Linked DNA regions of Homo sapiens. The protein of the gene in region 1 interacts with the protein of each later gene in a biochemical or structural test. Each region holds a gene or a part of one and is shown in the gene's direction. Other genes may lie near its edges.

Evidence for each region.
Region 2: the proteins of MAGI1 (region 1) and ADRB1 interact in a test that uses a peptide from one of them, tested with the Homo sapiens proteins (2 studies listed by IntAct).

The regions. Positions count from the first base shown.
Region 1 is NC_000003.12:66,035,919-66,042,988, reverse strand, and holds the start of MAGI1 (membrane-associated guanylate kinase, WW and PDZ domain-containing protein 1), read left to right. Parts: upstream 1-4,070; 5' UTR 4,071-4,680; coding exon 4,681-4,993; intron 4,994-7,070. UniProt on the Homo sapiens protein: Plays a role in coupling actin fibers to cell junctions in endothelial cells, via its interaction with AMOTL2 and CDH5. May regulate acid-induced ASIC3 currents by modulating its expression at the cell surface.
Region 2 is NC_000010.11:114,039,990-114,046,871, forward strand, and holds the start of ADRB1 (beta-1 adrenergic receptor), read left to right. Parts: upstream 1-3,876; 5' UTR 3,877-4,143; coding exon 4,144-5,577; 3' UTR 5,578-6,882. UniProt on the Homo sapiens protein: Beta-adrenergic receptors mediate the catecholamine-induced activation of adenylate cyclase through the action of G proteins. This receptor binds epinephrine and norepinephrine with approximately equal affinity.

The DNA.
Region 1 (7,070 bases):
AGAACAGGAGATTGAGTTCTGGAGTGAAACACTGTATCCTTTAGCTTAAAGTGAAGAGACAGAAAGGAGGGGGACTTAATTACTGTGTATACACTATGTAGCAGATTCAAGAGTCCAGAGCATGCTGTTACCCAAATATGCTAAATGGCCACATCCTATCCTCTCAGACTACAGTGTTCTGAGCATGGGTTTTGGGTCATGCCTCCGGGTTCACTTCCTGGTTTTGTTACTTGTAAGCTCTGGGGCAAGTTTCTTCACTTTCTTAGCTTCATTTTCCTCAGTTATAAAATCAAGGTCATTCCTGATAGTTCCTACCTTACACAACTGTGGTGATTGCATAAAATAACTCACATCAGCTGGGCGCGATGGCTCACGCCTGTAATCCCAACACTTTGGGAGGCCGAGGTAGGTGGATCACCTGAGGTCAGGAGTTTGAGACCAGCCTGGCCAACATGGCAAAACCCTGTCTCTACTAAAAAAGCAAAAATTAGCTGGGCATGGTGGTGTACTCCTGCAATCCCAGCTACTTGGGAGGTTGAGGCGTGAGAATCACTTAAACCCAGGAGGCTGAGGTTGCAGTGTGCCGAGACGGCACCACTGCACTCCAGCCTGGATGACAGAGTGAGAGTTTGTCTCAAAACAAACAAACAAACAAACAAACAAAAACCAAACAAAAAAACCCCCAACTCACATCACTACGCTGACATATACAGTAAGCTTGAAAGTTAGGTATTTTATAGCATTATTTCTCCCAACAGAATGTATTGCCAAATTCATAGCTAAAGTGAGACAAGTCAGAATACTAGGATCTTAGATCTATTCAGGAAAAATCTACTTCACAATGACATAACTATAAGCTCTTTTCATTGAAAGTAATGGCAAAACCTGCAATTACTCTTGCACCAACCTAATATAAATACCCCTGTTTTGGCAACCAAATCTAAACTGGCTTTGGATCAAAGGTCACATATTACACAATTTCATGTCATACTTCATCCATTTATTCAACAATTTCATGTCACACTTCATCAATTCACTCAACAACTGTGTATGGTGCACACTCCACACAAGGCATGGTTCATGGTTTTTGGTATTGAGGTTTCAAAGGTTGGATAGGAGAGAGATGATCTCTGCCTTGAACTTCTCCAGTCTGGGACACAGGAACTAGACCAGGTGAAACACCAGCCGGGAAGATGCAGAGGGAGCATCCTGGAAACTGGCAGCCTTGGCTACTTTGAAGGTTCAAATTATTTTTCCTTTTCCTGAATTAGAATAATGTCTATTCTCTCCATATTGCCCTCTGTGCCCACAGGTACTACTCCTTCTTTTGGGGCTTTTCCACATCTAAAACCTGACGTATGCTAAATTCCAAGTTCTTTCCTTTCTCAGCTGCTGTGGTGACACCTGGAATCCTGGCAAGAGGGGGATGTTGTTGCATTGGGAGGAATCACAAAACGCCTGGTCTTGTCCAGCCCTTGGACTCCCCCAGGCAGAGGTGAGAGTTGAGTGGAGAGGTAGGGGACTCCTAATTCAAGGTTGGTTGTGGGTATTCTTAGCAAACAATTACACTTTACTAGAATATGAAGTGGCAAAGTGGGGAAACACACAAGGCTAAGCTTACTAAGCTTACTAATGATTTGCAGGGGAATCTGTGACTCCCCACTAACATGGAAAGTAAAAATGTACATTTTTGTGGAAAGAGTCATTTGACAAATATTTTAGCATTTGCTAGTACGAGGCACCATTCTAGGAACTGGGAATAATACATCAGTAAACCAAACTGTCAAAGTGTCCTGACCTCCTTGAGTTTTTATTTTACACAGAGATGTGGATCACAGGTTTATTTGACAAAAAGGTCTGGGACCCAAACAATGCTTTGGAATCAAGATACTAAACCTATGGTGCTCAGCGTTGTGTACCAACAACACATAAGGGGAACCTTAAAAGTTCAAATGACTTAGCCCTTCCTTGACATTCTGATTGGCTGGATCTGTGCTCGGGTTTGATAATTTATGTTTTGAAGTGCTGTTCATATTGACCTAGATTGCTTCTGAAAAAAAGCTGGAGACAAAGTTCCTCTCACCAAGCAAAGCCATGGAAAATTGGTCACCTCCTTTTTTCAGAAACACAACAATGCAATGGGATTTTCAGTTCTGGATATCCCAAGAGAGAAGCATCAACATCCCTCCTTACTTTTATTAGCTTAGAATAGCACCCTACAATGCTTTAAAAGGATGTTTAAACGTATGCCTAAACCAGGTATGGTGGCTCACATCTATAACCCCAGCACTTTGGGAAGCTGAGTCAGGAGGTTGGCTTGAGCCCAGGAGTTTGAGACCAGCCTGGGCAATCAACATAGGGAGACCCCCCCATGTCTACAAAAAATCAAAAAAATAAAACTAGCTGGGCATGGTGGCATGTGCCTATAATTCCAGATACTCAGGAGGCTGAGGTGGTAGGATTGCTTGAGTCCAGAAGTTCGAGGTTACAATCAGCTAGTCGAGCTACTGCACTCCAGCTTGGGGACAAAGCAAGACCACGTTTCTAAAAACACCACCACCACCATCAAAAAACAAACACACAAAGTATGCCCATATTTTCTAAGTTCTAGAAAGGAGAGGATAAATTATCATACTTACTAACTTGAATCCCCAAATGATTTCCCAATTTTCTTCCCAAATAGTAATACTACTATTAAGAATATAATGAGTTTTTATTATTTGCCACTTTATAAGTGTTTTCCCACGTAATACTTCCAAGAACCCTGTGAGGTCTTGTTCTACTTATTTGATCAGCGAGAAACGGAGGCGCGGAGGTCACCAAGCTTGCTCAAGGTCACACAAGGGTGGACCCCTGAGCCTACCTCTCAACCTCGACTGCTGTGTCCATCCTTTCTTCATCGTTTCAACGTACCCCCCTCATTTCTTGGAATCTCTCCTGTGACCAAAGATGAACAAAATTATACATCACTAAAGAGGAAAACAAACTGCTGGGGAGACTACTCAGCAGCCTGATTTGAGGAGTATTTGGGAAGGGCAGCCTTCCTGTGGTATGGGAGTCTTTCTGTCCGCCACCTCGCCGGGACAGAAGTCACTCCATCCGCACCCCCGGGCGACCTCCGGAGGCCGCAGCTACCCCCGGGCTGCGAATTCCGAGTTCTCTCACGCCCCCGCGGGCGCCAGGACGCAGGGCATGTCCGCGCCCGGCGGGGATCCTTATCTCCTGGCCCCGGAGTAGGTCCGCAGGCTTCTCGGCCCTGCCAGGAACTTGAGGCCGGGGCAGATGATTGACTGGGTCCAGCAGTCTCTGCTGGCAGGGCAGTTGAAAAGCTAGAGGGATCTCTTTTTTGGTTGAATACCTGAACCCACACTAGCACCATGGCTTCTCTCTCTTGCCTGTAGTTTCCCGTGTCCTAAAAAGTTGGTCCCAAAGTTTAAGGATGCGGGTGTGTGTAAGAGCGCGTGTGACCCGCACAGGGATCCCAGTTGGGGAACCGGAGGATCCCACCGTCCCCCTCCCCCGGGTCGCAGAGACCCTGGCAGACCCCGCGCCAGGACCCGAACCCGCAAGCGCAGGGCAGGCAGGGAGGCGGCGAGCGCCCCGGGGCGGGTCTCGGGGGTTTCAGTGGGACCTGCGGCAAGGGGGGCGGCGAACCAGCCGGGCTGGGTGACCGACAGCCTGGCCAGCCACTGGCCGAGGGCGGTTAGGAGGCTTAGGGCCGGCGCGAGTGCGTGCGCGTGTGCGTGAGTGTGAGCGCCAGGGTGAGTGTGGCAGCCTCCCCAACCCCCACCTGTTTGAAATGGTTTTCAAATGCCAAAGCCAGATTGCCCGGGTTTCAAAAGTTGCAAACAGTTGGAGTAAAACACGTGTGCGGCCCTCCAGCCCCAAAGGAATCCGCGGAGTCCAGGGCACTGAAAGAAAAGGAGAGAGGATAGGGGTTCAGGAAGGGTTGGGGGGGAGTTGCCTTCTCCCGGCAGGTCGGTTTTAGGACCCATCGGGAAGCACGTTGGAATCTCTCCCTTCGGGGAGGAGGGGAGGGGTGGGCCGGCCGGCTGGCGGCCGCGGGGCGCATGCGCGCGCGTCTCCTGTCGCCGGCCGCTGCGCTCCGCGGCGCGGAATAGAATGAACTGTAACAAAACAAGCCGAGCCTTTGTATCTGCTTAAAGGGGCCGCGAGCACTTACCTCCCGCCCTGCTCCCCGCCGCCCCGCCACCGCGTCTTCAGGGCTCCCGGCAACTGGCTGGAAGGGCTTCCCTCACCCTCAGTAACAGCCTGCCAGCGAGGAGAGGCGAGCCGGGCGGGAGGCAAAGAGGAGGCACCGCATTTGTAAAAGGCAAGAGAGAAAGGAAGGAAGGAAAAAAAAATAACCCGAGCGGCGCAGAGTGGACTCTGGTCCGGGAGAGCACGGGCGGGCGCCGGAACGTGGACCCAGAGGCACCGGAATGCAAACAAAGCTCGCGGGCGCCTGTGCGGGGCTCGCGGGGAAGCCCAGAAAGTTTGTTTTATGATGGCTTGAGTGCGCGAGCGTGTGCAGGGGAGCGAGGCTGCCAAGTTTCTCTCTCCTGTTTTGTGATTTGGGGAGAGATGTTTCTCCCATGAACAAGCGGAGGCTTGGGGGCTCGTGCTGTGGGGGGCACCTGTCTCTCGTTTTATTTTTTTGGAGGAGGGGTGTAACTCATCATGTCCAAAGTGATCCAGAAGAAGAACCACTGGACTAGCAGGGTTCACGAATGCACCGTGAAGCGGGGACCCCAGGGCGAGCTGGGGGTGACGGTGCTGGGAGGCGCGGAGCACGGGGAGTTTCCGTACGTCGGAGCGGTGGCGGCGGTCGAGGCAGCGGGGCTTCCCGGCGGCGGCGAGGGCCCGAGGCTGGGCGAAGGGGAGCTGCTTCTGGAGGTGCAGGGGGTCCGGGTGTCCGGCTTGCCCCGCTATGACGTGCTGGGGGTCATCGACAGCTGCAAGGAGGCCGTCACCTTCAAGGCCGTCAGACAAGGTAAGGCAGGGCGCGCCTTTGGGGGGCGCCCCGAGAAAAGGAGGGTGGTCTGTGGGCTGCCCCTTATTCTCGATTTCCTGCTTCCCTCCTCGGAGCGCAGTGAAGAGAAGTTGAGGCCGTGCGCCCTGTGGTGGCGGTGAAATACACAAAGTTGTTGCGAGGTTGAGGGTTGTTTGCCCACCTGCGTTTCGAAGAGGGGGCTGGGTTTGCGCAAGGTAGCGGGGGGACGTTTCTCAGGCCTGGCTGGCCAACCTGTTATCTCCGCCACTAAGTGCAGCGCAGTCTCGCCTGCACCCGAGAGAGAGTTGGGGAACTGAGTCAGGGGCATGGTGGACGCTGTCCTGGCTCCTTGGGGGAGGGATGCAGCTGGCGTTCTTTGGCCACGAGTCAGTTTCCATACCTGCTGAGTGGGTATACAGAAAGAGAGGGTCTGTAGTTTATTGGACCTCCCCCATCAGAAAATCTGCTTCACCCCGCGACCCCTCCAGGTGAGCTAGGACACCACTGCCTGGCGGTTCCTGAGCCCGCCGCCAGAAGAGCCTGCATTCACCCCTCAGCCGGATGACGCATGTGTCTCCACCGTGTGGCTCAGCCATACACTTGGGAGGGGGAGAGGGGGAAGGGGTGCTTGCTTTTAGCTCGAATCGGGTCCAAGTTTACCCTCCCACCACCACCATCATCGTCATTATTGATGATGAAAATGAAGCTACTATTCATTGTTGGTTTACTACATGCCCGGCTCTGTGTAAAATACTTTACTTGCACTATCTCACTCCGATTCACAACAGTTCTAAGAACGAGTTGTTCTTATTTATATACCCCAAATTAGAGATAAGGAAACTGGGATTGATACTGGTTAAGTGACTTGCTCAAGGTCACACAGTTGCCAAAAGCGAGGGTTTGAGCCCTTGCTGCAGAGCCTTAAGTATGGAGGAGGAAGGAGTGGGGGGATGACCCTACCGCACTGAAGGGGCTGATTCCTGAGGAGGGAGTGGAAGCAAATTCCTCTCTCAGAAATCTGTAGAGGCCTTTTAAAAGATGCATTTGCTGGCTGCTGGTGATGTAGGTCCCTTACATCTCACTTTGGTACAGACAAGGGGCTGTCCTCATGTCAACCCAATGGAGACCAGCTGAGGCCCTTAAAGGGCTCCCTTGTGCAAGCAAGTGCCATGACGCAGGTTCTCCCCAGTGAAAGCACCGAAGGAAGTCGTGAAGTTGAACATGGTGAAAAGTTCCCATGTGTTTCCATAAGGACAGGCAGCAGCTGGAGGAATGTGTCAAAGGAAGGGCTGGGCCTAGCTGGTCCTCTCTTGGAAACAGGCGTGCTCCAGATGAAATGGAGGAGGGGGCGGCCGACTCGCCTGGCCTTTTAGCAGCTTTGGGAGCTGAGGAGCTGACACTTAGCTATGGAAAGCTCCTTGTATTTATGACTTCATTCTCCACTGGGATACCTCCTCCAAGAAGCCCTCCAGAATCCTGCTAGGATGCACAAATTCTTCCTCCTTTGGGCTCCTTTAATGTCTACTTTGTGGCTTTTTTACTTACTCTGAACTCTGAGTTAGGTCCTCATTTCCATACAAGGTAGTGAGCTCATTAAAGGGAGAGATTGTGCCTCATTCCTGGCATACCTCTCCAGGTTTTGCTTGAGGTTCAAAACCTTTCCTGGCCTGACAATGCGTCTTCCTCACACTGGCTTTCCTGTGGGTATTACATAAGCTAACACGTGGAAAGTGCACCCAACAGTGCCTGTACATAGTAAGTGCTCCATAAAGATTAGCTATTTATGTTTGAATTGATTTTAGCAGCTATTTATTTCTGAAACTAGTTTTTAGTGTCAGGAACCTGGATAATTATGACTTGATAGGGCTGTAGAGAAAATACTGTGTGAAGGCATAGGATGGGAGCAGCTGCAGGTCTCAGTTCAGGACCATTTTGGAGAAAGGGTGGAGGAAGGACAGGCAAGGGTACCTGCCCAACTAGGGGGATGCCTCGCAGTGTCTAACGGGTCCTGAATAGGGGCTGGCTTGCAGTGTTTGCAGTGTGCAAGATGCTGCATGGGCTTGTGTCTCTTCCTTCC
Region 2 (6,882 bases), on another chromosome or scaffold:
CATGGGAGATATAAAAATGTATGAGACAATTCTGGCTCTCAGTGAGCTTACAATCTATAAGAGAAGAAAAGGGGAAAATATAAAAATTAAATAACAACATAAGAAGTATCAAAAGGCAACCTATTGTAAATTGCCACCTGAAATGAAATTGGCAGAGTCACTACTATAGGTCAGAGGAAGGAGAGATCATTTTCAGAAGCAGTGGGCAGAGAAGATAAAGAGTCCAGCCACATCTCCAAGGCTGAATTCGCTGGGAAGCAGGAGGAGGTTTTGGTGGAGGGAACCCAGTGAGAAAGTATAGATGTACAAAAGGAAGGAGTATGGATCCCCAAAAGGAAAAAGAATACAGAAATGCAAGTTATGGTGATAAGGAGAGTTCTAATATGAAATAGGGCTGGAAAGGCCATTTAGAATTGGACCGGGGAGAACTGTGAATGTTAAATTGAAGAGGTAAGGTTGCTGAACAGAAAAGCATCTTGGTCAAAGCAGCATTTTGGAAATACTCCTTTGGTTATGATATGCCAGATTAAATGGAGCAGGGAGGACCAGAGACAGGGAGATCAAATAGAACCCATGGCAAGTCCCGGTGTGGGGTGAAGGTGGGGGGATGGGAAAGGAAGAAGTTGAGATAGGAACTCTGTGGAAGAAGTGCACGACCTCTCAAGTGTGCTGATCAGCCCTCATTGTTGGAGCTTTCTGTCATTTTCCAAAGCATTGTGAAATATATGGGTTTTTAGAACTGACTCTCTTTAACAGTTGCCAAGTGAAGAATGAAGAAATGAAGGAGTTTTATTTAACTTACAATATCCGATACCTGTAAAAGTTGATACGTTGAACCTTTTCTTCTTGATCTTGTATCCTTACCTAAGAATAAAAAGTGTTAGGCTAAAAAAAAAGTTAAAAAAAAAAAACACCAATCATAAAATGTAGGAATTAAAGGAGTTCTGAGAACATTTTATTTTTATTAGACAACCAACTCTAGTTGAACATGTACTATTCCAAACTCTTCTGTCAGTAAAATTGAAGGAAATCCCCCAGAATTCCTGAGATCCCTGTACTGGTACTCCTGCTAGAATAACCTTCTGGTTTCGAGGGTTTATAATTTAATGTATTATACAGAAATTCGGAGAAACTTGATGTATCTCTGAATGAGCAGAGAAAAAAAGTTTCAGGAAAGTTTTCCAACAATTCCAATGTCACGATGTGTTTATATATATAATGATGATACGGCAAAGTTACTGGCAATCTGGCTTCTGCCCTGAACCTCTACGACCAAGTTCTGGCCTTATCGCACACAGAAAAGCAATGCCTTCCACCCTTCGGGGGCATTTAAGGTTGACACACTCTATTCCGGTAACACCACTTGACAGAAAGATGGCAAGGAAAAGCCTCTTCCCCACATTCCCTATGCCTCACCCTGCAGCTCAGCACTCAGAACTCCTTTCCTGGGCAGCGTCAATTTCAACTTCTTCCAATCCCTTGGCTATTTTGAGACTGCCCCTTGTGGGTCCAGAAGGAAGCCAGGAGGCCGGGGACAGTGGCTCATGCCTCTAATCCCAGCACTTTGGGAGGCCAAGGTGGGTGGATCACCTGAGGTCAGGAGTTCGAGACCAGCCTGACCAACATGGTAAAACGCCATCTCCACTAAAAATACAAAATTAGCCGTGTGTGGCGGCACACGCCTGTAATCCCAGCTACTTGACAGGCTGAGGCAGGAGAATCACTTGAACCCGGGAGGCAGAGGTTGCAGTGGGCCAAGATCACGCCACTGAACTCCAGCCTGGGCAACAAAAGTGAAACTCTGTCTCAAAAAAATAAAAAGAAAGAAGCCAGGAGTCTCAGGCTTTCAGTGACTTGGATAACTTGGGGTGTAGTCTCCTTCCTCCCCTTTCTAACGCCTCTTGTTTCCTGGCCACTCCTCCTCAACCTCCCCAAGTTGGAAAATCAGCTGATAAATCATGGGCAGGGGGTGAATAAACAAATCACTCCCCAGTTTTAACATACTGATGCTGAGGTTTGGGCCTAAAGCAAATTCATATGTTTGCATTTATGTAAGAGAAAGTGGTTAAAACTGCTTGATTTTATATAAACTTGAAAAACATTACTTTTTGCTTTTGACCTGGACAGCTGTGGAAGTCGGTCTCTCCTTGCAAGGTAAGGATATGAGCTTGGTCATATTGATGACCATCAACGAACATGATGTTCGTTACGGGCGCTGTTCTTATTCCAATGCTAGAAGGACCTGTGAGCATTATATAACATTTTCATGCACCCTTACATAAACAATTAGAAGCTGTTTACTCCTCAAGGACTCAATTAGAGATTTTTTTAATTTTTTTATTTTTTTTTTTATTTCAGGCCTGAGCTGAGGACACTACAGGAGCCAAATTAGAGAAGGGGCTTGCAGTCCTGCCATATTGCATATTCATGGCTTTCTTGTCCCCTCACCCCCAGTATAATCCTTTTTGCCAGGTTAACAACTCACTAATTTCAAAGCAATTCATTTGCCAACTCAAAAAAAAAAAAAAAAAAAACCACAGATACAACTTTAAATGCTTTTGGATTTTAATCCTCTGGAGTATTTATATGTTTTCTTGTCTCATCCCTTCAAAACTAATCTCAGAGTTTTGAGAATCTGGGAACTTGGGCAAAGGAGAAAACAAGCACGCAGACCAAGGAATCTGAAATCGCAGTTCATTACGTCAGCATAAACTGACAGTACCTTTTTGTTTGTATTGACCCAGCTCAAATTATAAAATCACATGAGTAATAAAACACAAAATACAGGTGTTATCATTGAAAAGTCTAAAATGTAATTAAACGCGTTTTTTCCCCCTCGCGGTGGTATCGTTTACTCTGTATCTCAACGTTTCTGTCTCCCTAAGCCTCTCCTTTCATATCATGAGCATACATTTTTGCATCATGCTCACACGTTCATTAGCTAGGACTGAGGAGTGTGTACGATTCCAAAGGGCCCTCAGCGTTAGCTGTTAGATGCACAAACCTTCGCTTCCTTTCCACATCTACTGCACTCGAGGTTCAACAGAGGATCCTTGCAAGAACAGCGCCCAGAGAGCATTCTTGACAGATGCGCGCTTGGCTCCAGCAACCCGCTCTGCTGGGAAGTTTCTTCTAACCACTAACACCCACCTCCAATCCCCCAAGCTGTCACGACGCATGCTGGCTGGGTCCCGTCTTGACGGGGGAAGGGTTTTACACACACCCTGCTAGGCTGCCCCACATCACAACCAAGCTCGCAGGGCAAACTCCTCCAAGCCTGGCGGACAAGCTGTCCCAGGCGCTCTGGCGCTTCCTGAACACCAAGGTCCCCTCCCCGCTCAAGGGAGCTAGCGCTCTGTTCCGCAGAGAACCCCGGAACTGCAGGTCGAGGGGATGCGGGGGGAGCGGGGGCGCAGGAGGGAGCCGAGTGCTGGAGGCAAACGGGGCGCAGGAGCGGGTGCGGGAGGCAAACGGGGCGCAGGAGCGGGTGCGGGAGGCAAACGGGGCGCAGGAGTGGGTGCGGGAGCGAGTGGGGGCTGAGGGAGGGGACGGGGCCCCGGGGGGAGCCAGGCGCGGAAGGGGGCGCGGGGGAACAGGGACCAGGAACCAGCGGGCGCAGGAAGGGGTGCGTCCGCAGGAACCCGCGGGCGCACGGGAGGCACTAGCTACGCGATCAGCTCGGGACTCTCAGGAGCCGCTCAATTGCCAACGGGAGGGGGGTGCGGGGAGTTGGAGGTGGGGGTGCAGACCAGACGGGGGCGTGCCTTTGCCCGGATTGGCTGCAGGAGCCTGACGCGAGGCCCCGGGGGTTGGCTTGGGGAGTGGGAGCGGGGTGGGGTGGGTGCTGGGTGCCGGAGCTGCGGGCCCGGCGCGCTCAGAAACATGCTGAAGTCCCGGCGGCTCTTCCAGCAGCGGCAGCGGCTCCAGCAGCAGCGGCGGCGGCGGCGGCGGCGGCAGCGGCAGCGACAGCGCTCGGCTCCTGCGGGAAAGGCGCCCGGCGCCCATGCCTCCGGCCCCGCGCCGCGGCTGCCCTGACCCGGCCGCGACCTCCCTCTGCGCACCACGCCGCCCGGGCTTCTGGGGTGTTCCCCAACCACGGCCCAGCCCTGCCACACCCCCCGCCCCCGGCCTCCGCAGCTCGGCATGGGCGCGGGGGTGCTCGTCCTGGGCGCCTCCGAGCCCGGTAACCTGTCGTCGGCCGCACCGCTCCCCGACGGCGCGGCCACCGCGGCGCGGCTGCTGGTGCCCGCGTCGCCGCCCGCCTCGTTGCTGCCTCCCGCCAGCGAAAGCCCCGAGCCGCTGTCTCAGCAGTGGACAGCGGGCATGGGTCTGCTGATGGCGCTCATCGTGCTGCTCATCGTGGCGGGCAATGTGCTGGTGATCGTGGCCATCGCCAAGACGCCGCGGCTGCAGACGCTCACCAACCTCTTCATCATGTCCCTGGCCAGCGCCGACCTGGTCATGGGGCTGCTGGTGGTGCCGTTCGGGGCCACCATCGTGGTGTGGGGCCGCTGGGAGTACGGCTCCTTCTTCTGCGAGCTGTGGACCTCAGTGGACGTGCTGTGCGTGACGGCCAGCATCGAGACCCTGTGTGTCATTGCCCTGGACCGCTACCTCGCCATCACCTCGCCCTTCCGCTACCAGAGCCTGCTGACGCGCGCGCGGGCGCGGGGCCTCGTGTGCACCGTGTGGGCCATCTCGGCCCTGGTGTCCTTCCTGCCCATCCTCATGCACTGGTGGCGGGCGGAGAGCGACGAGGCGCGCCGCTGCTACAACGACCCCAAGTGCTGCGACTTCGTCACCAACCGGGCCTACGCCATCGCCTCGTCCGTAGTCTCCTTCTACGTGCCCCTGTGCATCATGGCCTTCGTGTACCTGCGGGTGTTCCGCGAGGCCCAGAAGCAGGTGAAGAAGATCGACAGCTGCGAGCGCCGTTTCCTCGGCGGCCCAGCGCGGCCGCCCTCGCCCTCGCCCTCGCCCGTCCCCGCGCCCGCGCCGCCGCCCGGACCCCCGCGCCCCGCCGCCGCCGCCGCCACCGCCCCGCTGGCCAACGGGCGTGCGGGTAAGCGGCGGCCCTCGCGCCTCGTGGCCCTGCGCGAGCAGAAGGCGCTCAAGACGCTGGGCATCATCATGGGCGTCTTCACGCTCTGCTGGCTGCCCTTCTTCCTGGCCAACGTGGTGAAGGCCTTCCACCGCGAGCTGGTGCCCGACCGCCTCTTCGTCTTCTTCAACTGGCTGGGCTACGCCAACTCGGCCTTCAACCCCATCATCTACTGCCGCAGCCCCGACTTCCGCAAGGCCTTCCAGGGACTGCTCTGCTGCGCGCGCAGGGCTGCCCGCCGGCGCCACGCGACCCACGGAGACCGGCCGCGCGCCTCGGGCTGTCTGGCCCGGCCCGGACCCCCGCCATCGCCCGGGGCCGCCTCGGACGACGACGACGACGATGTCGTCGGGGCCACGCCGCCCGCGCGCCTGCTGGAGCCCTGGGCCGGCTGCAACGGCGGGGCGGCGGCGGACAGCGACTCGAGCCTGGACGAGCCGTGCCGCCCCGGCTTCGCCTCGGAATCCAAGGTGTAGGGCCCGGCGCGGGGCGCGGACTCCGGGCACGGCTTCCCAGGGGAACGAGGAGATCTGTGTTTACTTAAGACCGATAGCAGGTGAACTCGAAGCCCACAATCCTCGTCTGAATCATCCGAGGCAAAGAGAAAAGCCACGGACCGTTGCACAAAAAGGAAAGTTTGGGAAGGGATGGGAGAGTGGCTTGCTGATGTTCCTTGTTGTTTTTTTTTTCTTTTCTTTTCTTTCTTCTTCTTTTTTTTTTTTTTTTTTTTTTCTGTTTGTGGTCCGGCCTTCTTTTGTGTGTGCGTGTGATGCATCTTTAGATTTTTTTCCCCCACCAGGTGGTTTTTGACACTCTCTGAGAGGACCGGAGTGGAAGATGGGTGGGTTAGGGGAAGGGAGAAGCATTAGGAGGGGATTAAAATCGATCATCGTGGCTCCCATCCCTTTCCCGGGAACAGGAACACACTACCAGCCAGAGAGAGGAGAATGACAGTTTGTCAAGACATATTTCCTTTTGCTTTCCAGAGAAATTTCATTTTAATTTCTAAGTAATGATTTCTGCTGTTATGAAAGCAAAGAGAAAGGATGGAGGCAAAATAAAAAAAAATCACGTTTCAAGAAATGTTAAGCTCTTCTTGGAACAAGCCCCACCTTGCTTTCCTTGTGTAGGGCAAACCCGCTGTCCCCCGCGCGCCTGGGTGGTCAGGCTGAGGGATTTCTACCTCACACTGTGCATTTGCACAGCAGATAGAAAGACTTGTTTATATTAAACAGCTTATTTATGTATCAATATTAGTTGGAAGGACCAGGCGCAGAGCCTCTCTCTGTGACATGTGACTCTGTCAATTGAAGACAGGACATTAAAAGAGAGCGAGAGAGAGAAACAGTTCAGATTACTGCACATGTGGATAAAAACAAAAACAAAAAAAAGGAGTGGTTCAAAATGCCATTTTTGCACAGTGTTAGGAATTACAAAATCCACAGAAGATGTTACTTGCACAAAAAGAAATTAAATATTTTTTAAAGGGAGAGGGGCTGGGCAGATCTTAAATAAAATTCAAACTCTACTTCTGTTGTCTAGTATGTTATTGAGCTAATGATTCATTGGGAAAATACCTTTTTATACTCCTTTATCATGGTACTGTAACTGTATCCATATTATAAATATAATTATCTTAAGGATTTTTTATTTTTTTTTATGTCCAAGTGCCCACGTGAATTTGCTGGTGAAAGTTAGCACTTGTGTGTAAATTCTACTTCCTCTTGTGTGTTTTACCAAGTATTTATACTCTGGTGCAACTAACTACTGTGTGAGGAATT